Linked DNA regions of Homo sapiens. The protein of the gene in region 3 interacts with the protein of the main gene of each other region in a pairwise test. Each region holds a gene or a part of one and is shown on either strand. Other genes may lie near its edges.

Region 1 (8,133 bases), on a different chromosome or scaffold from region 3:
ACAAAATCACAACCATTCAACCTGGCACTGTGGGACACAGGAGGTGACTCAGGGAGGAGCTGACGGGCCAGGCACATGGTGAAGGCAGGGGGAGCCTGGGCCCGTACCTGCTGGTGAGTGAGGTGTCCCAGCTCCTTGTACCCCAGCGCCAGGACGCGGGCTCCTTCCCGGGAGATCTCGGTGTGGATGTGGTGGTAGTCGGGCGGGCACTGGGAGAACTGCAGGGAATGCAGGGGGATGTCACGGGCTGCCCCGCGCCCCCACCCCTTGCCCCAGGCTGGGGCCAGCTCACCATGGAGTGCAGAGTTTCGGGGGCCCCCTTCACGGCCGCGATGTAGCAGAGGTCGGTGGAGCCCAGCTTCTCATACGAGGCAAGCACGGACATTCGCTTCAGGGCACTGGCAAAATGAAAGCGCTGGTGAATTTTCAGCCCCTGAGTTTTAATACTTCGGGGGAATACTTTCTCATCTGGAAACAAATAAGTACGAGTCCTGAGGGGCTTTGCTCCAAAGAGGCAGCCAAGCCCCTACCTCTCACCCCGGCCTCCCCCACCTCCCTCCTGCCTCCCCCAGGGCCTGATCGGGGCTCTGGGCTAGAGCAGGTGTTGGTCCAGAGCTGGAAGACCTGGGCTTGGAGGACCCTGGCACTGTGGCTTCGGCCAGGGCAGGGCAGATTCCAACCCAGAGGGACACCCAAGGACGTGGCCTATCCTGGGTCTAAAGTGAGCCTCTGGCCACCCACCTCGGGGAGCATCAGAGCTGTAGGCCTGCCTGTCCCCAAGATGCTCTGAGGGGTGCAGCCCACCTGCCTAGGGCTGTGAGAGCCAGTGGCTCCCCCTTGCTGGGCCTGAGGCCCCAGCCCCTCACCTTTGGTCAGCGTCCAGTCCACGGCCGTCAGCATGGCCTTCTCTAGAGGGTCACCCACGAGGGTGCCGTCGTCCAGCTGCATGAGCGAGTGGCACGAGGCCAGGGCCCGGTGTGTTTCTACAGGGATGCTGGACACTGGGGTCACCTCCTTCCCGTCTCTGCAAGGTCGGGGAACAGCTGGTTACAGAGTGCAGGCGGGTAGGGCGAAGCTGCATCCCCACCAGCAGAAGGACCCCCAAGGCCATTCATTCCGTGCTTGTCACTGGGGTGGCTTGGGCGCCAACTGGGTCTTTATGAGACCTGCACCTGCTTCACAGATGCCCCCAGAAGCCAGGCATTGTGCCTGGGGGTCATGTGGTGCATGGCTGGTGTGGGATGTTCCAGGCCTGAGCTGAGCCCCCGTGCCGCTACCATGGCTGACACCCAGGACTTTGTGGGGAGCCCCTGGAAATGAACCCGAGGCAGGGCCTCTGACGGGCCCTCACTGCAAGGGCTTGGGGTGGATGGGCCACCTGTCTCTCGACTTCCCAGAAACCCCATCTGGGTGACCTTTGCTGCAGGGCCCCTGATGCTTACCTCAGCCCGGCCACACCGCGCACCACCAGGCTGTCACTGGTCAACGTCCCCGTCTTGTCAAAGCAGCACACCTCGACCTTGCCAGCAAAGGGGATCCGGAAGGGCTCTGTGCAGTACATGTCTAGGGGCGGGAGTGAGGTCAGGGGTCCTGCTTGGCCCCAGCCCACTCGGCACCCCATCCCATTTGACACACTCACAGAGCTTGGCCAGGGCGATGAGGGAGGTGTTGACGGCCAGGGACAGCTCGATGGGCAGCTCAGGAGGCACGACCGAGGTGAGGATCAGGGTGCACTCCAGAAACAGCTTGTAGCGGTTCCGGCTGGGGTCCTTGGTACCTGTGGAGACAGGGCCTGCCAACCTGGAGCCTCGGAGGGTGGGCGCAGGGGACCACAGAGGCCGTGGCGCTTACCTTCAATCCATACATAGGCAGCTGCAGCGATGGCAAACACCAGGAGGAAGAGGATGAAGATGAAGGTCTCCAGGTTGTTCGCAGTCACCCTCTTGACCCCGAAGAGGATGGTGCGCAGCAGCTTGCCCTGGAGGAATGGAGGAACAGCCTTTCTGCTGTCTGGACTCCCTCCAGCAGCTCAGGCCTGGAAGCGTGGGCCTGGTCTTGGGGTGGCCTCTGCACCCTGGCCCAGGTCCAGGGCCGTGCTGCCAGAGTCAGCCCGTGGGGCAGATGTTCTGGGGTCGGAAAGGGCTGATACCTTGGCTGTCCAACTGCCCTGGGGCCCGCCCTCCCCAGACCTGGCCCCGCACCTGGGATGTGTTGAATCCGGTCCGCAGGACGTAGGCCACGCACCCGCTGTCAACCGCTGGGGAGAGAAGCAGAGTCACCGTCATGCCTGTCTCCTCGTCCTGACTCCCTCATGATCAAGCAGACGGGCAAAGGGGGTGGAAGCCCAGATACCCCCAGACGCCCATGAGGCACCTACGCTTCAGGCCCGTGGTGGCTTTCTGTGGGGGGATGTGCTGCACCACCTTGGTGCCCCCGAAGATGACGTGCAGCCGGGAATCAGCCTGGAGGTCCAGCACCCGGTCTGGGCTGAGGTCTTCGATGGGCTCCTGGGGAGGAAGATCGTGAATCTGGATGGCCAGGCCTACCTTGCTTCCTTCTCCATCTGAGTTCCTGGACAGCTGGACCTTGAGGCTGGAATGAGCCAGGGGGATCCCCACCCGACCAATACATCCCACCCAGCTCCCAGATCCTCACCCTCACCCCGTCCTGTCTTCTCCCCATTGCACTCACAGTGCCTGCTCTCTGGGGCCTGCACTTGGCCTCGTCTGGGACTCACCCCTCTGGACTGCTCCCAGCCCACCTTGGTCTGACATCCCAGGGCACCAATGTACCCTGGATGCCCTTGGCTCTCTCACCTCCTTCCTCGCCCCCACCACCCGGCTCCCCAGTCCACAGAGCTCATCTGTGCCCACACTGCCTCCTCCGCCTGTGCCTGAGGGGGATCCCCGCCACCCCCTGGGCCTCCACCTCCTGGCCTGTTTCCTCCTGAACAGCTTGAGGATCCCCATCCTCCACCAAGTACCTTCATCTGTGGCACGGACTCCCCCGTGAGCATGGCCTCGTCTACGATGCAGCGGCCTCGCAGCAGAAGCACGTCACATGGCACCAGGTTCTCCTGTGGGGAGCGGCCTGCAGGGCAGAGGCAGGAGGGTTGGCCAGAGGCCCTGAGGCTGGGGCTCCCACTGGGACTGAGCGGAACCCGGCCTCACCGATGGAGACGATGTCCCCTGGTACGATCTCATCACTGGCAATGGGCCTCCACTTGCGGCTTCGGTAGACCTGGGCGGGGCATGGGTGTCAGCACAGAAGCCGCACCTGTGCTGCACCCCCAACCTGGGTCTCCCTGGCAGCCACACCTGGATCATGTGGGGCTTGTTGCCCATCTTCCGGATCTCCGACATGTTCCGCATCTGCTGCTGCACCAGCGAGGCCTCGAACGCCACCAGCATGGATAGCGTAAAGACGCTGTAGTACCAGTACTCATCCAGGCACCAGAGCCCCACACAGAACACCTGTGGGATACCAGCCTGTCTGTCCTTGCCCTACCCGCCCTGTTCCCATGAGCCCCTTCCACCCACCGGATCTGATATGTGAGGGTGGGGAGAGGCTTCCAGGTTTAGAAGTGGTGGGCAGGCTTGATCCGGTTAGGAAAGCCCCAAGGGAGGAAATGGGGAGATGGGCCAGAGCTGCTGCTTTACCTGAAATACAAAGAAGGGGGCTGTGGCTCTCTCCTTGAAAAGCTCCGAGAAGTCAGGCACCACCATCTCGGCCCTGCAAGAGACCAGGCCCCATCCTGTTCCCAGGGCAAGGCCTCTGGGGTATGGAGTCTCCACCCTGACCCCTCCAACCTGAGCATGGCAGGCCGCTCTCAAGAAACCAAGAGCCATATGTGGGCGTCGGGAGCCCTGGCGAGCTTCCAGATAGGAGGATCCATTTGGCAGTGGCTCTCCCTCATCCTGGCTGAGCCTGGGGTAGACATGCTGCCCGCCCACAGCCCTCGGCTCTGCATAAAACAGATGAAGCTCCTTAATCTGCAATATGCTCTTCCTGGCAGCCTGGGGCTGGTGTCAGACGAGAGCCCGTCATCTGGTCGAGTGACACAGCAAGTAGAGAAGGAACCTCTGATTGAAAGATGGAGGCCCTGAAGCTACAGACAGCAGAAGACACTGAGACCCAGCCCCACCAAAGCTGAGATTTTCTATGATTCCTGAATTAAAGCCCCAGAATGGGTCGAGTAGGGTGGTTCACGCCTGTAATCCCAAGCACTTTGGGAGGCCGAGGCAGGAGGAGTGCTTGAGCCCAGGAGTCAGAGACTAGCCTGGGCAACACAGCAAGACCTTCTATTTACAAAAAATTTAAAAATTAGCTGGGGGTGGTGGTGTGTGCCTGTGGTCCCAGCTATTTGGGAGGCTGAGGCAGGATGAATGCTTGAGCCCAGGAGTTCAAGGCTACAGTGAGCCATGATCACACCACTGCACTCCAGCCTGGGTAACAGAGTAAGACCCTGTCTCCAAAAAAAAAAAAAAAAAAAAAAAAGGCTCGAGAATGCAAGGACTTGGGCCTAAGGGTGTGTTCTGCAGTACTCTGTGCCATAGTCCAATCTGATCAGGGCACCAGTCATGTCAACGAGGGTCATTCTCGCTCTGCCCTTTAACTGCATGGACGTCTTATGTATGGGATGTGAGAAGAGGAAACCAAAGAGCAACCCCACTGCTATCAAACAATAAGCCCTTCCCTTGTATCTTGCTGGGTACCTTTGCGTTGAGTAAGAACAGCATGAAAGGGAACGTAGTTGCCACAGGCCATTAATGTGACTGGCCAACCTTGGGGTAGGGGAAGTTGCTAAATGTTTCTTATAAATCCTTGTATTAGATTGATAGTTGTAGTCAACATATTTGTAATCTCTGAACAGTGATTAAGTCAGGAAAGAGCTCCCTAGGTGTTCTGTGGGTTTCTGGGTTGAGGACCATCGTAACAAGGCCATGATGGGGTTTGGAGCCCAGTTCTCCGGCTCCCAGCCACGTGTCAGCATTTGCAGTTTTGGTGAAGATGAAGGGAGAGGGTGTGCACCGCACATTGGCCATTGTACTCAGTACAAAAGGGCAGACATGGTCACGGTCTTCCATCACCATTCTGAAGCGCTGAGATGCGTAGACTCGAAACAGTGAGGACTGAAATGTTTAGGTTGGGTGCAGTGACTCATGCCTGTAATCCCAGCACTTTGGGATGTTGATTTAGGAGGACTGCTTGAGGCCAGGAGTTTGAGACAAGCCTGGGCAACACGGCGAGACCCCATCTCTACACAAATAAACATTTTAAAAGAATTTAAAATAAAGCTGTTGCTGAGGAGGGGCCACAGGCTAGACTCCTGTGAAGAACCTTACACTCAAGGTCTCACACCCCAGGGCACGGGCTTCCAGCTGCAGACCCTCTGGGGTTCCTGCCAGCAGGCAAGTTCAGGGGAGACTGGACTTAGAGCATGTTGCTCAAGCGGCATCACAGTCACCTGGGACATTTGGCTAAAAGGGCAGATTTGGCCGGGTGCAGTGGCTCACGCCTGTAATCCCAGCACTTTGGGAGGCCAACATGGGAGGATCACCTGAGGTCAGGAGTTCAAGACCAGCCTGGCCAACATGGTGAAACCCCCATCTCTACTAAAAATACAAAAATTAGCCAGGCGTGGTGGGGGGAGCCTGTATTCCCAGCTGCTTGGCAGGTTGAGGCAGGAGAATCACTTGAACCGGGGAGGCGGAGGTTGGGGTGAGCTGAGATCGCGTCACTGCACTCCAGCCTGGGTGACAGAGCGAGACTCAGTCTCAAAAATAAAAAATAAAATAAAAATAAAATAATAGTAAATAAATAAATAAAAGGGCAGATGCCTCTGTCCCGCTTCCTAGGCACCCTGAATCAGGAGGGGAGCAGGACAGAAAGGCAAAGGTGCTACAGGCAAATCAAGGACTCACTTGTTGCTCCCAAATTTCTTCTCAGCTGCTCGGATCTCTGAGTCTTCCTGGAAGCCTCTGTTGCTCTGATAGTATGAGAAGGCGTTTCCCACAGGAAAGGCCACGGGGAGAAACTGCTTCTTCTCCAGGGCATCGTAGGAATACTTGATCTTCTGGAATTCGAAGGACAGCACCTCAAGCCCGTCTTCGCCCTGCGGTAGAAGGTGTGTTTGCCACAGAGGCCCCTGACCTTGGGGTGTCAGCGCCTGGGAATCCTACTCAAGCCCCTCCTCCAGGAGCCCAGCAGGCAGTCCCTACCTCATTGCGGTGCAGGGCCACGAGCTCCGTGGAGCCATTGTTGGGGGTTGGCACCACCTTCACAAAGGTCGCTTTGCTGGGGTCGTACTCCTGACAGAGACAAAGAAAGCATTGTGGCTTAGCTCTTCTCAACCTACAGTTCCAAGACCCCCCCGGGAGGTTTTGGGTGCAGCAGCTCTATGGGTATATTCTGAAATGCCACTGGGCTCTGGTGCTGCCTCTGTCACTCCCTCGTCTGTCATCAGGACAAACGAGACCATCTTGCTGTGCCTCTGGTGCCACACTTAAAGCTGGGAGCACAAGGCTGGGCACGGTGACTCACACCCATAATCCCAGCACTTTGGGAGGCCAAGGTGGGCGGATCACTTGAGATCAGGAGTTTGAGATCAGCCTCGCCAATGTGGCGAAACCCTGTCTCAACTAAAAATACACAAATGAGCCGGACACGGTGGTGCACACCTGTAATACCAGCTACTTAGGAGGCTGAGGCAGGAGAATCCCTTGAACTGGGAGGCGGAGGTTGCAGTGAACTGAGATTGCAACACTGCACTCCAGCCTGGGTGGCAGAGTGAGATCCTATCTCAATTAAAAAAAAAAAAACAAAAAACCAGCCAGGCACAGTGGCTCGCACCTGTAATCCCAGCACTTTGGGAGGCCGAGGTGGGCAGATCACGACGTCAGGAGATTGAGACCATCCTGGCTAACACGGTGAAACCCCATCTCTACTAAAAACACAAAAAATTAGCTGGGCGTGGTGGCAGGCATCTGTAGTCCCAGCTACTTGGGAGGCTGAGGCAGGAGAATGGCGTGCACCCAGGAGGCAGAGCTTGCAGTGAGCCGAGATTGCACCACTGCACTCCAGCCTGGGCGACAGAGCAGGACTCTGTCTCAAAATAAAAAGGCTGGGTGCAGTGGCTCACACCTGTAATCCCAGCACTTTGGGAGGCTGAGGCAGGGGGGATCACGAGGTCAGGAGTTTGAGACCAGCCTGGCCAATATGGTGAAACCCCGTCTCTACTAAAAATATAAAAATTAGCTGGGCATAGTGGCAGGCACCTGTAGTCTCAGCTACTCGGGAGGCTGAGGCAGAACAATCACTTGAACCTGGGAGGCGGAGGTTGCAGTGAGCCGAGATTGTGCCACTGCACTCCAGCCTGGGCAACAGAGCCAGACTCCATCTCAAAAACAAACAAACAAACAAACAAAAAAACCCCAAAAAACAAAACAAAAACAAAAACAACAACAAAAAAAGCTGGGAAGCTGGGTGCACAGACAGCACCTAATGCCCAGGGCTCTGCTCTGCTGAAGGTGACATGAACTCAAATAGGAAGAACGCTGCCAGGCACCCACCCAGTACGTCCTCAATTCACGTGAGCCAAGCCCCCGCCCCATCACAGGCCCCCGGCCTCCTGCTCAGCTCTGCCTCTTCCACCAACCCTGCTCACTACACTCCACAGCTCCACACGCACATGGGGCTCGATCGTGCCTCAGCAAAGGGCCTTGGCATGTGCTGTTTTCTCTGCCCGGAATACACAGTCACACAGCTCCCTTGCTGCCTCAGGCTTTTGCTGAAACATCACCTTCTCAGGAGCCCCTCCCTGGCTGCCCCATCTAAAGTTCCCGGCAATGTCCCATCCTGTCCTGATGTTAGATGTCATCTCTGTTTGGCATCAACTGCTGACTATGAGTTCTCCCTCCCAGTAACACCACAAAGGCAGGGGGATTTGCCTGTTTTGTTCACTGCTGTTTCCCCAGCACCTAAGACACAGAAATGTTGAATGGAACTCGTTCAGTGCTCCCTGGACCCCGTGAACCGCCATCCATTCCTCTGCTGCTCTGCTAGACCGAGCTGCATGGAGACGAGCTGCATGGAGATGGGGGGAGCACAATGATGACCCGCAGAAACAAAGCG
Region 2 (8,772 bases), on a different chromosome or scaffold from region 3:
TAATTGTCACAAACACAACTAGCTCTGAATGTATAAAACTATGAAGGTTATATTATCAAAATGTGGTTTGGGGTTAAGTTTTATGTAAGAGTATGTTCTGATGGCTGCAGTTGCAATGACAGGAAAATGTCATCCAGGTTAAGAAGTCTTGGGCTAGATTTTAAATTAATGCACTGCTTCCTTCATTGAGAGAGTTTTACTATGAAAAAAAAGCAGCTTAACTGAACGTTGTGCTGACCAACATGGACAGAATTGTGAATTTTATAAGGTGAATATATTAAATTTGAAATCATTCTCTTTATTATGTGGTAATATGGAAACAGATCATAAACAGCTACTGTTGCATGCCAAATTTAAAGTTTTGTTGAGCATGTTTCATCTATAGGAAGAATTCCTAATTAAGACAAGAAGCCAGTTTAGTACAAATGTGAATTGTACCATCAGACTTGTTTATACTGTAGTTCTGAAGTTAATATTTCCATGCAAGGAAGTAAAGCGACATGTTTTTCAATGGCAAGTAAAGTCTAAGTGCAAACATAAAAGTCAGAAGAACCATTTCTATGAATTGTTATGACATGTTCTTAATTTAATAACATTTATCAACAAAATAAGTGATAATATTGATATTGCATATCTTCACAAGTGCTCATGGGAAAACATTAATAATTTGATAGCATGTTTTGAATTTCGTTTTTTTGTCAGAAGAAGATATATGCAGAGGAAATTCATAGATCTAGAATCCATATTTTCCCATCGAAAGATAATTTAAACTATAAGTTTTAGGATAAAGTTTTGGAACTGGCTACTGATAAAGGATTGAAGATGCATTTTGAAATTACAGCATCGCTTGCTTCCTTTTGTAAAAGTTAAATATAAAACTGTTGAGCTTGTCGGAATTGCTTTAAAATTTCTTCTATTTCTGACATTATACCTCCGTGAGACCAGTTTTCTGGGCTTCTACTGTGAGTATTATTTTAAAAAAAATCAACACAATTTCTTTATACATTATCTCCTAAGTGATGTGGTGTCATAAATAGTTCTCAGATTAGGAAAGTTACCAAGTAAGAAAAGTGCTCATTTGTCACATTATAATCCTTAAAAACGGAAAGACAGGGTGTTTGTTTGAAGGGTGCATATTGGCATTTAATATGGAGAACTGCAATTTCCCTTCTAGCTTTGTACTTAGTTTTAACTGAGGAATGACAAAACGTTATGGGTATACCGTTAAGCCACTACATCAATCACCTTTAGGCACACTTTCAAATGAACAATGTATACAGTTTTTATAAATTTTTCCCTATGTGATATTTGTTCTGATTGTATTCATTAAAATGTAATTTTATGTTTGTCAAATTTAATAAATGTTGGGCTTGTACTTTATATATCTTTTTCTTATTTTTCTAGTAATTTTTTTTTACTGTATTTTACAAAAAAAATTACTCATGTGAATTGCAGATTTTTTTTTAGAAGGTCCTCTTCCACAGGAACTGTGGGTAGCTCTGCTCTGAGCAGGAGTTTGGCACACTTTCTGTAAAGGGTCAGGGATGAGCCATGTGGTCTCTGTCACAGCTGCTCAATTTTGCTGTCACAGCATGAAAAGGGCCACAGACAATAGGTAATTGAGTGGGCATGGCTGTGTTCCAAAAAATAACTCCACTTATAGGCACTGAAATTTGAATTTCCTGTATGTCACAAAATATTGTTTTTCTTTTGATTTTTTTTCACTCATTCTTAGTTTTTTTCACTCATTCTTAGTCCCCGATCTGGACTATGAGGGATACCCATAGTATCTTGGTATCTAGACTACCCAGATACCACTGGCTCTACATGGTGGGGGCAGCCAGTGGATGCACCTTTCCTGGGCACCTACTATGTACCAAAGATGCCGGGTGGTCCTGCCCTCCTGTAGCAGGGTCATATAGGCTGACTGGTCAGCATGCTCACCGGGTCTGTTTCAGCATCTCTCAGGAGGCCCAGGCTGCAGGCTTGGGAGTCATGCAGACTGTGAGATGGCTGCTCTTGTGCACATATGAGTTCCCCCTGCACCTGTTCCCAACAGCCTTCCCAGGAGACTGGGGCGTGGGCATGGGTGGCTTCCACGATTGGGAAACCAGGGGTGATGGAGGCACCAAAAGGGGGTGAGGGGCACCCCTCTGAGGACCCTAGGGAAAGAGCTCACCTGGAGATACCACCAGATAGAATCTGACGGACTTAGAGACAGAGTTGTCAGAAGGGCGGTAGATTCTACACCAGTAATGTCCTGAGTCTTCCTCTCTCAGATCAGTCATGGTGACAGTGAAGAAGCCAGCATCAGGGTCGTCCCAGATTGTGAATCGAGAGGTCCAAGCCATCGTCCTGGGCTTGGAGCTGGTGACTAACCTGATGCACACAAGTGCTGAAGCCTCCTTACACCAGCCTTTCTTCTCGTAGAGACTGCCCGTGGGCGGGTACTGGCATCTCACGGTTAGCGTCTGCCCTGCCACACTTTGAAGTACCTGAGCCTTGGATTGTGCCTGAGAGCCTGGAGAATGATGAAGTAACGCATAGGTCAAGGCCACGCGCACAACCTGCCTCACAGCAGGCCTCTGGCCACAGAGCCACCTGCTCCCTGACCCTGCTGTCCTGACAGTCCCCACCACACCCATCTCCTCTGCTCCCTGGGCTCCTCCTCCCCCTCACCTGGGAACAGCAGCAGCAGCAGTAGCAGTGGGTGTAGGGCTCGCCAGGCCATGTGGTCCTTTTCCTGTGCGCTCATGGGAGGGGACACCTGGAGAAGACTGGGGAGAGGGAATTGGGAGCTGGGCCTGATTCTGCTGCTCTTCCAGCACGTCTGATAGAAAAATGAGACAGGCTGAGGCCTGGGTTGGGGAGATGGGAGACTGCAAAGGGCAGATTCTGTGGGCACAGGGAAGTGGGGATCTCCAGCTGTAGGTGAGTCTGGGTCTGGTGGGCTCGGCGCTGTCTGGCACACAGCTTCCCAGGCCTCTGTAGAAGATGCCTGCTCTCCCCTGTGCCCAGCTGCCCCTCCCCACCATGACCTACCCCTGAGGGAGGAGCTGAAAAGGCCAGGAGGAAACTGTGGGCGAGTTATGGACTGCTTCCCCCTTGCTCCCTCTGTGTGCTGCCTCTCTTCTTTGCAGGGCCCTAGCTTTGCCGCCCTTTCCAGGGAAAGGCAGGCTGAGGGTGGATGACAAACTCAGGGGCACTTGGAACCCTGATCACAAGCCCCAAGCCTCACTGGTCACAGGATGGCCAGGGACGTCATGCCCAGGCCTCCATGGTGGGTCAGTGATGTGCTTCCACTCTGGGAGTTTCGTGGGTGCGGGAAAGGAGAGGGGAGAGGAGGTGGAGATTCAAAACCAGCAAGGGAGGCTAGGGAGGGTCCCTGGCAAAGGTCGGGGAGGGGAGGGTGGGAAGAGCACACGGAGCATGGGATGCATCAGTGGGGTGGGGTAGAGGGAGCCCAGGAACCAGGACCTGGCCTCATCTCTGCATCCTGGACCTCTGCCACTTAAGGACCCTGGAGAAATATTGTTTAATTAAAACATAAACAGATGAAAGACTCTAGCATATTTTTCTTTAGTTAATGTCAGCACTTTGAAGATTCAGTTTTAAAATACGATGCAATTTACAAAGAGAACGAGCTAATATATCTTAGGACTGGTAGAGACACTGTGTGTAATTGCAGTTGCACCACTGGGGGCTCTGCTGGACTGGCGATCTGCTGCCGGGAGCTCTGTGAACAGAGGTAATAACTGAGACGGGAATTGGAACTTGTCAAGTGGACTCGATTCCAAGTCCACTGCTTTGCCTGCCCCTGGACTCCTGCTCTCCACTCCATCTCAGTACACTGCCCTTCTCCTTACAGTAGGAGTATGCAGAGACTGAGAATGGGAAAGGCAGAGGGGTATGCAAAAGGAGGACACAGTAGGGCTATCAGATGTTGGCGCCCAAGGGCCCAAGGTGGGAAAGCAGGCTGGAGCTCCAGAGCTAGAAGACAGCTCAGGGAGCGATGCCCGCCACTCACTCACACAAGCATTATTTACAAAGCATTCTCATGCACACTTTCTCAAGACCCTCAGCAGGTTCGCGAGGGAGACATTACTTCTCTTTTTCACAGATGTGAGAACTGAGGCCCAGATATGGTCAGCCACCTGCTCAGAGTCACACAGGACCAGAACAGGCCTCCTGACTTCGGTCTGGAGCCTTCCGGCTGGTCTGGTTGAAATGCGACCCACAGACATGACAGGAAACCAGGGGTGAGAAAGAGGCTCCCACTGAATTGCACACACAGGCGGAGGTGAGCTTTTAGGGGGTTTCCTCGCCGACAGTGGGGCCCAGCTTCTCCCTGAACATAATTACATACCAAATCAGGGTGGGGGCATCCTCCCGAGGGGGAGGAAGGCGGCCCTGTCCTCAGATGGCACCGAGGCACGTCACCGTGTGTGTGTGTGTGTGTGTGTGTGTGTGTGTGTGTGTGTCAGCAACTGTGTTCCCATGCTGACTTTCCCCTTCTCTGACCCCTGCTGACTCTAAGTGACAGCTCCTTCTTGTAGCTTACAAGAGCACCCCTTGCTATGTGCCACTAGCTGTGTGTCTCTTCAGCCTGCAGCCAGCTCTGTATCGTTCTCTGCTGTGTCAGAGTGTGTCGTCTCTCCCCAGGGGACAGGAGCTCTCAAAGCGGGGAATCTGCCCCTCTCTCTGTGTTGTGGCTTCCCCACCTGTGTGAGTGGGGTGGGCACCCTCCACATAGACTTGGGGCCTTGAGCACCCTAGGGGGAGGCCCCTGCTGGAACCATCTGCACGCTCAGCTTCCTCTGGCATCTGGGACCTGGGGGCAGGGAAGCCTGGGCTTAGGCAGCCCCTCATCCAGGCTGGGACTGGCCCTGCTCCCTGGGGACCCACAACAGCCCTTGTCACAAGTTGAATTTCTGCAGGAGGGACTGGGGCAGGTAGCTGTGGTGGGATCTGGGGCCCTTTCAGAAGTCTCTTGAAGAGCTAGGGATAGTGCCTCCCCCTTGGCACGATCAGAGCAGGGCACAGCAAAGTCCTGTCAAAGAGCCTGGGGTTCTGGGGGATTCTGGGTTCCCTGCCCACCCTCTGAGAAGGTCCCTCAGAGAACTTGGGAACCTCAGCAACCTCCTCTCCCAAACTCATTGTCACACACACTCACAGGAACCCAGAGAAGGAGCTGGGAGAGCTGGAGACTTCATGTACTTGCTTTTCTAGCAAGGCCCAGTCTAGCCTGCAACAGTGGCTCCGAGCCTGGGTAGGTCCATGGGAAGGGAGGGCTGGCCTCTGATGCAGAAATGGGGAAAGCAGGGAGCCGTAGAGGTCTGGAGGTGATCCCCAAAACGCAGCACAGGGCTAAGCTAGGCTGGGCAGGGGTGAAGGGGTAGCTGTAAATTTCCCCCATGATAGAACCAGAAGTAGCAGGGACAAAAGGGAATTTCTCTCAGTGCTGATTTCACAACTGAGGGAGATGAGGTCCAGAGAAGGCAAGTAGCCTTTCCACAGTCACTCAGCTATTTCAGGGCCAAACCAGGACTAGCACCCAGGCCTCCTCTCTCCTGACCTGGTGCTCCTCCTGGGCTCAGAGATTCTCCATGGGCACTTCCTTACTCTTCATCCAGGCTTGCCTTTTGCAGATCCAAGGAGTCTTCTCCCTGAACCCCAACAAGTCTGCTTATACCTCTGACCCCAATGGCTCTCTGCCCCAGCTCCAGCAGGATCCTTCAGTCATCAATTGCCCTGACAGGGTTATTCCTGCTCCCATGACAATGGTCCCATAACAATGGCCCTTCCTGGTCCCAGGATGCCAGGTTCAAAGCATCTGGTCTCAGAGCAGCTTTTTCCCTGCCAGAGAGGTCAGAGGGACCTGAGCTACTGCCCACACAAGGCTGCAGTCTGGGCGCACAGCTCCCTCACAGGAAGTTCAGGGTGGGTCAGGCACAGAACCAGGCTTCCACCCTAAGCACCCTGCGGGAGGCCTGGGCTCAGGGAGTGCAGGAAGCAGCCATCTCCCCAGCTGGGTTCTCCCTGCTTCTTCTCCTTCCTTACTCCATGGAACCAACCCCATCCTCCAACCCCCTCACCCCGTTCAGCCGCCCCCAGGGCCCCGGTCTCTGTGCTGCCTGGTGCTGTCAGCCCTTCATGTGCTCCCGAGCTGCAGGCTGGAGCAGGGGGAGTATGGCTGGGTTTGGCCTGGGGCCAGAGAGGAGGAGCGAAATGGAGCACAGTGGGGACAGCTGTGCTGGTAAAGGTGGTCAGCCTCAGAAGATGAGACAAAAATCAGGGGTAGGGTTAGAAAATTATGTTTAACATCGATTTCAATATCCTTTGGCCGTCATCTCTGTTTGCTCATTTGCTTATTACAGGCCAATCAAGATCCTTGCCTTTAAACTCTCAGGCCCTCACCCAAGTGCACCCACACTCACACAGACACTCACTCCCTCCTTCAGCACTCCCTCCTTCAGCAGACCACTCTGCTCCATAGAAACCAGCCCCAAGTTAGGGGGTGACAGAGCTGGAGAAGGGCAGTCCTGGAGAGGAGCAGGGCCAGGCGGTGCACACACTTCACGAACACCCTGGGGGCAGCAGCTATGGAGGTCTCTGAAGGCTTCAGCTCAGCACAGGCCGAGGGGCGATGCTCAGCTCTTGCCACTCTGGGACAGCTGAGATAATGAGTAAGGAAGGGGCCATCCAGTGCCTGCAGAAGACACCTACCAGTACCTAAATCCCTGCTGTGGTGGGACCCTCCCACATTGCTGTCCCCAGCCCCTCTGGAACACTCCCTGTGCATCTGATCCAACGCCCCAAACAGGGGAGACCAAACCCAGTTCAGCCTCTTTGCCCAACCTGAGAATCTTCCTCCTCCATGATCTCCCCTCTTGCTTTAATTTCCCTAAATCACTCAGTCACCACCACGGCCAGCTCCGGCTCCCCTCTGTCCCCGCTCTGTTCTGCCAAGTTCAGGCTGCCCAGCTCAAACACGTATCTGCACATCTGCCCTTAGCTGACTCCTCCCTTCAGCCTCCACCTTCTCAGGGGCTCCTGTGGACAGCTCCTGGGGGAATTCTCCCTGTGCAGCATCTTGACAGGGCCCCAGCCCTTACTCTCTCCGAAGCCTACTGGAGATCACTCTGCAGGGAATGCATTGCAGGTTCCACAAGGCCTGGCCCGGTGTGGTATCCCATCTCTGCCACCTCCATTTCAAATGCACTTCTGCAAGCCAAGAGAAGGCCCTACTGTCTGGAAAAGTAGGCCTTCTTCCTTCTGTGCTTAGATTCTAACGGGGAACATGGAGGGAAGAAAGGGTCGGTGTGGCCCACTGGACCCCCTGGCATTCTCTCTTCCAGCCCCCTATCTTTGTAAATGGAAGAAAATAAATAAATAAAAAAAAGATAAATCCAAGTTAAACAAGAAAAGTGGCCACCGATACGTTTGATTTCCGAGTGTTAAAAACAAAATAAGAAAAATTAGAATGTCAGAAGTAGAAGCCTCAACAGCTCAAAATACCAACATGAGAATATTCCCTCAATTCATCTATGCATTAATACTATTTGACAATCAAGTATCTCATACATTTGAGAAAAATTAATAGCATGAAGGTAAACCATCAATACAAGCACACAGAACACCTGAATTTAGAATTAATGTCAATAATTCATGAAATGGATGAGCAACTTTCAATAATTGAAATAAACATTCTCAGAGATATTTGCAAGAATGTCTTATCTCCTTATTCATCAGATATTTACAGATTAAAACAAATTGCAATATTTATTCATTAATTTGACAAATATTTTAAAAGCTTGTCCTACTCTCTTGGCAAGGGTGTGGAGAAGTGGGTGTTATGTTCAAAGTGGGAATAGAAACTGTTCAGCATTTCTGAATGCAAATAATAAGGATCTAAGATGTTTAATATGTGCATTCCTTGACTTGTCAATTCCATTTCAAGGATTCACCCATCCTTGAGAAATACACACACAGGCACAAAAGGAGATTTACAAAGACGCTCATCACTGATTGTTTATAATAATGATCTCCACAGGGGAATTAATAACATAACTTCTGGTCCACGTCTTCTATACAGCACCATGTAAAGGTTAAAAAAGAATACAGCTTGTGTGCAAATGTAGCTAGATCTCCAAACATCTTGTTAAATTTAATAATTGCTGCAGAATGACATGTATGGTATAATCCCACTTATATACAGTAAACTGAACTCAAAATGGTTTGTCTGTGCACATAAACCTCTTATCTGTACAAACACAGAAATTTTCTGTTTGTGAAAAGCTATACATCAAACTAATAATAGCAGTCTTTTGGGGCAATAACTATGATGAATGTTGGGGAAGAAGTGGTGAAGGGAACTTTATCTGTAGTCTGTTGCAATGTTTGTTCCTTTACCCAGCTTTAGTAAGGTATAACTGACCAATAAAAATTGTATATTTTTAGTGTATTACAAGATGCTTGGATATATGTATACATGGTGGAATGATTAAATCACGCTGATTTAACATATCCATCACCTCACATACTTATCTTTTTTTGTGGTGTAAACATTTAAGATCTACTCTCTTAGTCCTTTTTTTTTTTTTTTGAGACGGAGTCTCGCTCTGTCGCTCAGGCTGGAGTGCAGTGGCGTGATCTCAGCTCACTGCAAGCTCTGCCTCCCGGGTTCACACCATTCTCCCGCCTCAGCCTCCTGAGTAGCTTGGACTACAGGGCCTGCCACCATGCCTGGCTAATTTTGTTTTTGTATTTTTA
Region 3 (9,268 bases):
ATAAGCCACGTTCCACATGTCATTCTCCAGTGCAAATTTTTCAGTAGCACTCCTCTTAAGTACACATGCTTTTAATCTGGCATTCAAGGCTCAACCACAACTTGATCCCAATTTGTACTGCTGTGATTTTAATTCAAGCTCCTTATCCAAATAGCCTATAGGTTCTGGAAACCAATGAATCATCTTGAACTGGAATATACACAAGCAGTAGACAGAGAGTCTGTCATTTGACACTGTACAAAGACCAGTATTTGCTTATTTCAGACTCTGAAAATAGTGGCCTGCCTTTTAAAAAGAAATGTCCAGCATGATTTCTTGGAAAAGTATAAAGCACCAAGAATCAGGACCTAAATTTTAAACCTTGATTAACCACTATGTAACTTTACGACCTTGGGAAAATCATTTAAACTCTCTGGAGCTCAATCTCCTTATAAAATAAAAGCAGAGAACTGGAATATAAAAATGAGCTGGAGCCAGTACTAAAATGCAAATTCAAGGCCCTACTCTAAAAACTTGATTGGTCTGAGAATGTTCATTTTAATATAATTGATACATGAGGTCCTTGAGCCACAGTGAGAAAAAAATAACAAAGAGTTCTCTTAAGTCAATTCTAAATGTAGATTCTTAACTTCAGTCAATTAAGGTACTCCTTTACACGTCCAGGATGGGAGTTCTGGCCTGAAAGAAAATCCTTTCGTTCATCATGGGGCTTGTTTTTGTACCTTCCGCCATACCTTTTGTTTAAACACCGAATTAAGACTTAGTAGTACTACAAACTGAACTTCCATCAATCTGTTAAGACATATTGGCACACAGTCAATTCAAATTATTTTTTAAAGCACCTACCAAATGCTAAGTATCCACTGTATTTCATTAATCTTCATTGTTGTGAAATATGATTATCTTAATTTTCTCAGAAGAAAATTTTAAGTTTTAGAGAATATGTACTCTGTAAGTCTCAAAATTTTCTTCTCCTGTCTGAAAATTTCCAAAGAAATTAAATTATCATCCAAATTCACTACCAACATTTTGCTATAACTGAAAATACATAAAACTGATGAGTATTATCATAATGTAATGAAAGTCTAAGTGTTTTTCTGTTTCTTTTCCTTTACTTGTCCTTCTTAACCTTTCTGAGTATATATTTCTTTAACTACAAAGTTCTAGAAACCATATACCGCTTTGCCCTAGAATTACAGATGTTTCATGCTCTGCTGTATTACCATCTGTGTATATACCATCTCACCAACCCCCTTTTAAAAAGCATTAATTTGCATGTATGTGAAAAATAACCTATCTTAATGTTTTCCAAAAAATATTTTACTTTTTAAAAATTGCTTAACGGAGCCGGGCACAGTGGCTCAAGCCTGTAATCCCAGCACTTTGGAAGGCCAAGGTGGGTGGATCACAAGGTCAGGAGATCCAGACCATCTTGCCTAACATAGTAAAACCCCATCTCTACTAAAAATACAAAAAAATTAGCCAGGCCTGCTGGTGGGCACCTGTAGTCCCTGCTACTAGGGAGGCTGAGGCAGGAGAATGGCATGAACCCGGAAGGCGGAGCTTGCAGTGGGTGGAGATCACACCACTGCACTCCAGCCTGGGCGACAGAGCGACACTCCATCTCAAAAAAAAAAAAAAAATTGCTTAATGAATTTTTGTCTCTCTTTTTTTTTTTTTTTTTTTTGAGACAGAGTCTCACTCTTGTCACCCAGGCTGGAGTACAATGGTGCAATCTCAGCTCACTGCAACCTCTGCCTCCCAGGTTCAAGCGATTGTCCTGCCCCAGCCTCCCAAGTAGCTGGGATTACAGGGGCCCGCCACCACGCCCAGCTAATTTTTTGTATTTTTAGTAGAGACGGGGTAATGGATTTTTTTATTGGAGAAAGGGGAGTATCAAAATTGGAAGATGTTTTTGGCCCTTAGAAATTAAGCTGCTGGCATTAGCAAATCATAAGCCTAAACAATACAACTGTAACTCAAGACTCATTTAGCAATAGTTTTAAAGACTAAATAAGGAACTAGAAGCACATCTTTTGTGTGTGTGTTCTGGATTTCAAATTAGATCAGCATCCAGGAAACTATTTAAATCCCATTTCGGTGGAAAACTGTACAGGAATATTATACATATACTACTGTCTATCTTATCTATACTTTTCTTCCTTAAAATTTATTTTATTTGTTGTGATTTAAAAAGCAGCCCATATGCCTTACAGAAAAACTGGAAAAGAAAAAACAAGAAAACGAAACTCCCACAATCCCAACTATCCAGAAACAAATCAGTTAAAAACCCTGGTGTATATGTGTATGTATGTACCCAAGTAAAGAAAAGAAGAAAATTAGTTTTTTTAATTAAGCAAAAGAAAAGAAAAACCTTCGTGTATTTACAACCAACACAGTAAAAACTTTATTTAGGCAAGAATCATCAACAGACGCTACATCTTGAAGAGGAAAGTTTAATGAGGAAGTGGATATTTATACAATCTCAAAGTATTTCCCCAAAAATTAATTAGTAATGTCAAAAAAACATCAACTATACAATAGAGAAACTACTCAACACCTTAACTAAGCTATCAAAATGAACATAATAGTAAAGGGCAAACAAACATCATATGCCTCCAGACGATAGAAAAACACATATTTCTAATCTAGTATTCTAGCCAAAAATGTATAACCTGAATAATGAAGAAACCTTAAGACCAAGCCAAACTGAGGAGCAATATATAAATAATAAGCCTTCCAATGTCATGAAAGACAAAGATGGAGGAACTGTTCCAGATTAAAAGAGACTTAAGGGACAACAAAACTAAATGCAATCTGTGATCTTGGATCGGCTAATGGTACTGAAAAAAATGCTAATAAAGGACATAATAGGGACAACTGATAAAACTAGAATATGGACTATTTAGTATTACATCAATGTTAAATTTCCTGAATTTGACAACTACTCTGTTACTTAGGAAAACATGCGTGTTCTTAGGAAATGCATACTTCAGTAATAAGGGCTGTAAGGGGGCTAGTACTACTGGCAATGAAACCCACTCTCAAATGGTTCAGGAAAAATACCAGGTGTATATATAAAGAGAATAATAAAGCAAACAGCAAAATGTCACAAGTCCGGTGATCTTGGTACACAGTATAAGAGAGTTATTTGTACTATTCAAGTAAATTTTCAGTAAATTTTACATTATTTTTAAGTTAAAACCAAAAATATCTTGGTTTTTTAGCATTCCTCATCATGTGTGTGTGGCAATTTTTTAATTAAAAATTGAATCATCAGTGTGATATATCAATTATTTAGTTTTGGAAGCCCTCCCAAGTACCTTTGAACATTCCTGGAAAAAGGTAATTGTTTTCAGGAGAATTAAACGTGTCTTTCTCTTGCTTTACTCTGAGAAACGCCACTCTACAAACCATGAACACCCACCCCACCACCATCTCTCTAACTAGTCTCAGATAATTAGAGGGGATCAAGATGGTGAATAGTGGCTCTTTGACACCTTGCCAATTCCTGTGAGGCCCATCTGTACTTTCTTCAAATAAATTATGTGAGATTTCCCTATAGCCTTATAACAAATCCTTTATTTAAGCTAGCTAGAGCTGATTTCTGTTCCTTGCATCCAAAAAACTCTAAAACAGCAGGCTTTTAAGAAGGTGAAATAAACTACGGGTTCTCTCAAAGCAGGGACAGTCTCATCTCTCTCTGCATCTGTGGTGCCAGGAAAATAATAGCTACTCAAATTCATCTTTTGTCTGTGCTTCAAAAATATTGTTACAGCGAAGGCTTAATGATGTAAGATGTAATAAGCCTGTGTCAAGGCAACCAATTAAGCAACTTCATTTAAAGAGAAGAAGCAGAGACTTATTTTCTGGGTAAGAGTTACTATGTATCAGACCAACCTGAGACCCCTATTTATGGCTACTGGACCACAGTCCTAACCATTCAAATTAGTCACATCATGAATCTTCCCATCTCAGCCACTTCATTAAAGAGGAAATGGGGTTTTCAAATTCCTGAACGCTGTCTTTCTTTAAATGTTACATAAAGCAAGATGGTAAGAGGAACTGGAGATATCTCTCTGTAAACTCAAAAATAGAAACGATTACATATATTAGTCTCTGAAATAAGAAAACAAAAATATTAGAAGAGTGTATGTTTCTCATACACATTCTCTGAAAGACCCAAACTATGTTTCCCTGACAATATCCTAAGTGGTAATGGTTAATTCTTTTCTTTTCACCATATTCCTCACTTTTTACTAAAAACCACTGACACTAGGCTTCATCTTAGGCCAAACGGTAAGGAAAAGATATTTAATCTTTAAGCTTATTTAACTCAAATAAGTTTAAAATAATTTATAAGTGTAAATTTTTAAGACTTTAAATGGAAATTATTTTAAATACCCTATGAAAACAAAAGTCAACATAAATGAAAAAATTTAAACATTTTTGGTCTCAGATAAAACATGAGACAGCATAATTACATAAACTTTATTTATTTTTTTAGAGATGCAGTTTCGCTCGTTGCCCAGGCTGAAGTGCACTGGCACGATCTCAGCTCACTGCAACCTCCGCCTCCCAGGTCCAAGCAATTCTCCTGCCTCAGCCTCCCAAGTAGCTGGGATTACAGGCACCCGCCACCAAGCCCAGCTAATTTTTGTAGCAGAGATGGGGTTTCACCATGTTGGCCAGGCTGGTCTTGAACTCCTGAGCTCAGGTGATCCACCTGCCTCAGCCTCCCAAAGTGCTGGGATTACAAGCGTGAGCCACCATGCCAGGCCAAGTGAACTTTAAAGTTGTAAGTACCACAAACCAAAACTAACTCAATCCACTATCGTATGCTAGACAGGCATGACCTTAAATGCTGCAACCAAGTTGGCTATTACACAGGTGTGATTACACAATATCATCTTTCTCAATATTAAAATTCAGGACCAAGAATTTTTTTTTTTAATTTACTTATTTACTTTTTTTTTTTTTTTGAGACAGAGTCTCACTCTATCGCCCAGGCTGAAGTACAGTGGCACAATCTCGGCTCACTGCAACCTCCGCCTCCTGGGTTCAAGCAATTCTCCTGCCTCGCCCTCCTGAGTAGGTAGGATTGCAGGCACCTGCCACCACGCCCGGCTAATTTTTGTAATTTTTAGTAGAAATGGGGTTTCACCATGTTGGCCAGACTGGTCTCAAACTCCTGACCTCAAATGATCCGCCTGCCTCGGCCTCCCAAAGTAGTGAAATTACAGGTATGAGCCACCGTGCCCAGCCTATTTTTAATAATTAATATCTGATATGTCCTAGTCTTCTGAAGGAATGTTTCTTCCTTTGGATTAACTCTAAATTAAGCAGCCTAAGAGGTGCTAAGAAATTACCTCTGTCCAATTGTCGTAAAAATAAAGCTACATAGATCATTGCTTATCACGTTGACCTGCATGCAGATCCTTTCTAAACCCAGATTTCATATTTGAAACAGTTTTGAAATACAAAATATTTTAATTAAAAATGATGAACAAGTAGTTTACACATATTATAGGTTAATTATTTACTCATTAAAAGACGTAGTGTCTGTTTTGATGGCATCTTAATGCAACACATCAAAAAAGAATTCTTTGTTGACCTGTTGCATTGAAAATGTCCAACATCCCAAAAAGCTTAAATAGTTTTGGTAAATAACCAAACGAGATTTCCAATAAAACTGTAAAATTCACCTAACAATAAAAAAAGTTTTTCTGTCCAAAAATAAAATCCAATTATGAGCTGTTCATGAGGGAAAAAAAGAACTGATTTCATATCAAGTGAAAACATGTTATCTCGTGAAATATAAGACCAACTGCTTTTCCTGACTCTGATTTAAGTAAAAAGCATCCTAGTTACCAATGGTTAATAAAAACTTCTTTTATCCTTAAAGATATGAATTAAAATCTAATTAACTTACTCTGGGTCACCTTCATTTGATTTTTAATGTAGCACTTAGCATGGAAGTTCACAATAACAAAAAAACAATTTGTTTGCATCATAATATGGTTAATTCTTATCTCTTGCAATTGCTATTAAAAATATTGCAATTGCTATTAAACAGAGTATTTTATATAAAGTAAAATACTCATTTTATATTATACAAAGTAAAATACTGTTTATTTTATATAATGCAAAATACTCATTGTTTAATAGCAATTGCAAGATTTTTAGTTAAATACCATCCACTTCCAGTTTAGTGTAGAAAACAATTTCAACAACAAATACTGTTCCTCCATGTTAAGTAAATTTGTAGGTAATACAAAAAATTATTCTTTCAATGTCAAGAAAAAAATAAGGCTCCTCCCAACATCTGCACATTACAGAACAGGTAGTAAATACGAGCCACTTCAATTTTAAACCCAGCCTAAAAGCCAGTAACATTCACAGAGTAATATTTCAAATAGTATTCCACTCGTTAATTTGCCAGTCAACATAAAAATTAATTTTACCATAAAATAATTATATTTTCAATATTAAAAAGTCTCATAGATAATCTATCATGAAATTGGGGGAAACAAGTCTCACAGAATACAAGTATTTAACATTTATTCTAACACATAACAGGGAACAGTCCCTGATCACCCTACATATTTGAGATGTAAATGTGTTTGCTTCAATAAAAGATTCACATCCAAGAAATAATTAAGCACCTACCATCTGCTAAAAACAAATCCTTTGGAGATAAAAGCTTTTACACATTATTAAAATATTTTTAAAATAGTAAACATAAAATAGCATCTGTTGAGAAAACTGCATACTAGTATTTCCTAACCAGTTTTGATAGCTCTTCAAAGTTCTGTTAGTTTTACACATTTTAAACACACTATGGTTGTACACATTTAAGTCCCAGTAGTAGTAGCTTCCAGAAATGCAGAGCTGTTAGGGTTTACATAAAACACACCTTTAAAAATTAAACCACAGGTTTCTTTAGAAGATTGATGAATGAAAACGAGTACATTATTCTTGGAAATTAAGAAGCCAATTTAAGAAATTATAATTTCCCTAAGACCACTAAGATATGTACTGAGGGGAAATTTTTCTCCTATTAATTAGCTTTTCTCCCTACTGCCTCAATAGACTCAAGAAGTCCTAGAGCTTACTGGGGGCATATATGGCAATGATTTCTCTCTGGAAGCTGTGAGGAAGTCAGACGAGCCAAAATTGTAGGGCAGTTATCAGTCTTACAGAGTTGACGGGAAATGGAGACCTGTCAAGGCTCTACACTTAAACTGGAATCAGAGAGATCCTTTCATTTACACTGACAACGAAAGGATGTATGATCAAAATGTAGGCTCTAAAAATAAAATTAACTCTCCAATTACATTATAGTTCTCTACAAATCCACTTAAACAGATAAACAACTAATCCTTCAAACTCAGCTATCCTAGAACAAAGACCATTTGACTAGTTTCCCCCAAGGAACCAAATTCTTTCAAAACTCTCTGGGAACAAAAATTATGCCTAACCTTCTAATAAATTTGCCTAGACAATCCTAACTTAAAACACACATAGTAAATTAACAAAAAACAAACAATTATAGCCTCGTGATTTATAAAGTAACCATTCAAAATAAGGTACAATACTTAAAAAAAAAAAAAGCCAGTATCATTTTACAGGAACTAAAACATCAAAAAAAAAAACAAAAAACAAAAAAAAACCACCCACCACCACCACCAAAAAGAAACAAAACCTAAAGCAATAAAGCAAGCCAATATGAAGAAAGCTAGTAAACTGAAGACAGCTTTTCCTATAATTTCTAACTTGGTATTTTTCATTTGAAGCCAAATAAGTTCAATTGCTTTGTCTGTCTAGACCTGACCAAGGTCTCTATGAAGAAAACCATCGGGCACAGGCAGTGTTCCCTCCTATGGCCACATAAATCAAATTTTTAAGAATACACTGATTTTGTATATTGAATAGTAAGTTTAAAGTACCAAGCTTCTGAACCACAGACCTTAATCACCCAGCCTTTAAAATAAATGCACAATCTTTACACAGCAGTGAATGATCTGGACTTAAATACTTGCTCAGATCAAAATACAAATGAGTACTGACCCCAAAACCCTACACAAATTTCGCCCACTACCCACCAACATTTCACTTTATAATAAAATATTTCAAATATTCTAAGTAAGGTTGTGTGCTCAGTCTTCCATGATGAAGCTCACTGGTATGTAGAAAATCCTTGAGCCAGTTATTTCTCTAATTATTTCGTAGGCTAGAACCTTATCAACCTAGTTGATACAGTCACCATATGAAGTAAATGCTGCTCTAAAATATTTACAATGGAATAAAAGAATCATGAAACAGTGTATACTCTTCAACCTTTTAAAGTACTACTGGATTGAAAAGCACTCATCTTTCCGTTGCTCCACAATCAGAATGGTCATTAAATGTCATTAATGGCCCACTCACATCTCACTGCTTAGTTCAACCCAAAAAGAACTCCCACTACGAAAGTGAATTCTAATCTTTCACACTTTAAAAAATTCAGTTAAATGACACCTGACACCATTTAATTTTCAGTCTCAGTCTGTAAGTTTCTGAAAATAGCATAAAATGGATTCAAGACCCTATTATGGTAATGTTTTTATTTAAGGTCTATTAAAACAGACTAAATTCCACAATCCTATAATAGGTAAATGGGCATATTTGAAGAGGAAAAAAATCCAGAATCGGAGCCTTACTTTTAACTTACATAATGATGATAGTATGCTGTAAGACGATTGTTAAAGGCAGCATGAAGCTTCACTTTACCAAATACACAATAAACTTTGAAAATTCTTAAGGAAAGCTTAAATACATGGGAAAAATGGATGGCAAAATATAATGGCATCTCTACACCCAATGAAGTAACAGGTTTAAGCTTGTTTGTACAGCTCCCTAAAATTTAAGCTAAAACACAATACAAAAACCAAAATCCACAAAATGGGTCAAGAGGTGGTTGGGAAATGTCTTACTCTAGATTGAAACATTTAATCATATAAAATAGATGATACTTATACAGTTACTAAACATTTTAATCTACTTTGGCATATTGAATAAAAGATGGTTGGATTAAACCAAACAAAAACTATTATTGGTACCCAAATAATTTTTTTTTAATGTTGAAGCGCACCCATCATCACCACTGAAATTTGCAAGGCTGTTTTTTTTTTTCAAAAGTGGAGACATTTTATTTGCCTTTCAGGAAAAACGAATCAAATTAATCAGCTAAAACACAGCACTGTAATTTGCAGTAAAAAATCAACAC

Evidence for each region. Proteins that work in one complex are often made in the same cells at the same time.
Region 1: the proteins of KMT2E (region 3) and ATP13A1 interact in binary tests that used the Homo sapiens proteins (3 or more experiments, as listed by UniProt).
Region 2: the proteins of KMT2E (region 3) and NCR2 interact in binary tests that used the Homo sapiens proteins (3 or more experiments, as listed by UniProt).

Annotation. Positions count from the first base shown.
Region 1 is NC_000019.10:19,653,677-19,661,809, forward strand, and holds part of ATP13A1 (endoplasmic reticulum transmembrane helix translocase), read right to left. Parts: intron 6,312-8,133; coding exon 6,222-6,311; intron 6,116-6,221; coding exon 5,925-6,115; intron 3,733-5,924; coding exon 3,660-3,732; intron 3,474-3,659; coding exon 3,318-3,473; intron 3,241-3,317; coding exon 3,171-3,240; intron 3,091-3,170; coding exon 2,984-3,090; intron 2,508-2,983; coding exon 2,378-2,507; intron 2,258-2,377; coding exon 2,202-2,257; intron 1,979-2,201; coding exon 1,852-1,978; intron 1,778-1,851; coding exon 1,640-1,777; intron 1,564-1,639; coding exon 1,443-1,563; intron 1,025-1,442; coding exon 867-1,024; intron 469-866; coding exon 293-468; intron 219-292; coding exon 108-218; intron 1-107. UniProt on the Homo sapiens protein: Endoplasmic reticulum translocase required to remove mitochondrial transmembrane proteins mistargeted to the endoplasmic reticulum.
Region 2 is NC_000006.12:41,329,836-41,338,607, reverse strand, and holds the start of NCR2 (natural cytotoxicity triggering receptor 2 isoform 1 precursor), read right to left. Parts: upstream 3,001-8,772; 5' UTR 2,756-3,000; coding exon of another isoform or gene 2,732-2,755; coding exon 2,680-2,731; intron 2,522-2,679; coding exon 2,180-2,521; intron 1-2,179. UniProt on the Homo sapiens protein: Cytotoxicity-activating receptor that may contribute to the increased efficiency of activated natural killer (NK) cells to mediate tumor cell lysis.
Region 3 is NC_000007.14:105,015,822-105,025,089, reverse strand, and holds part of KMT2E (inactive histone-lysine N-methyltransferase 2E), read right to left. Parts: intron 1-9,268. UniProt on the Homo sapiens protein: Associates with chromatin regions downstream of transcriptional start sites of active genes and thus regulates gene transcription. Chromatin interaction is mediated via the binding to tri-methylated histone H3 at 'Lys-4' (H3K4me3).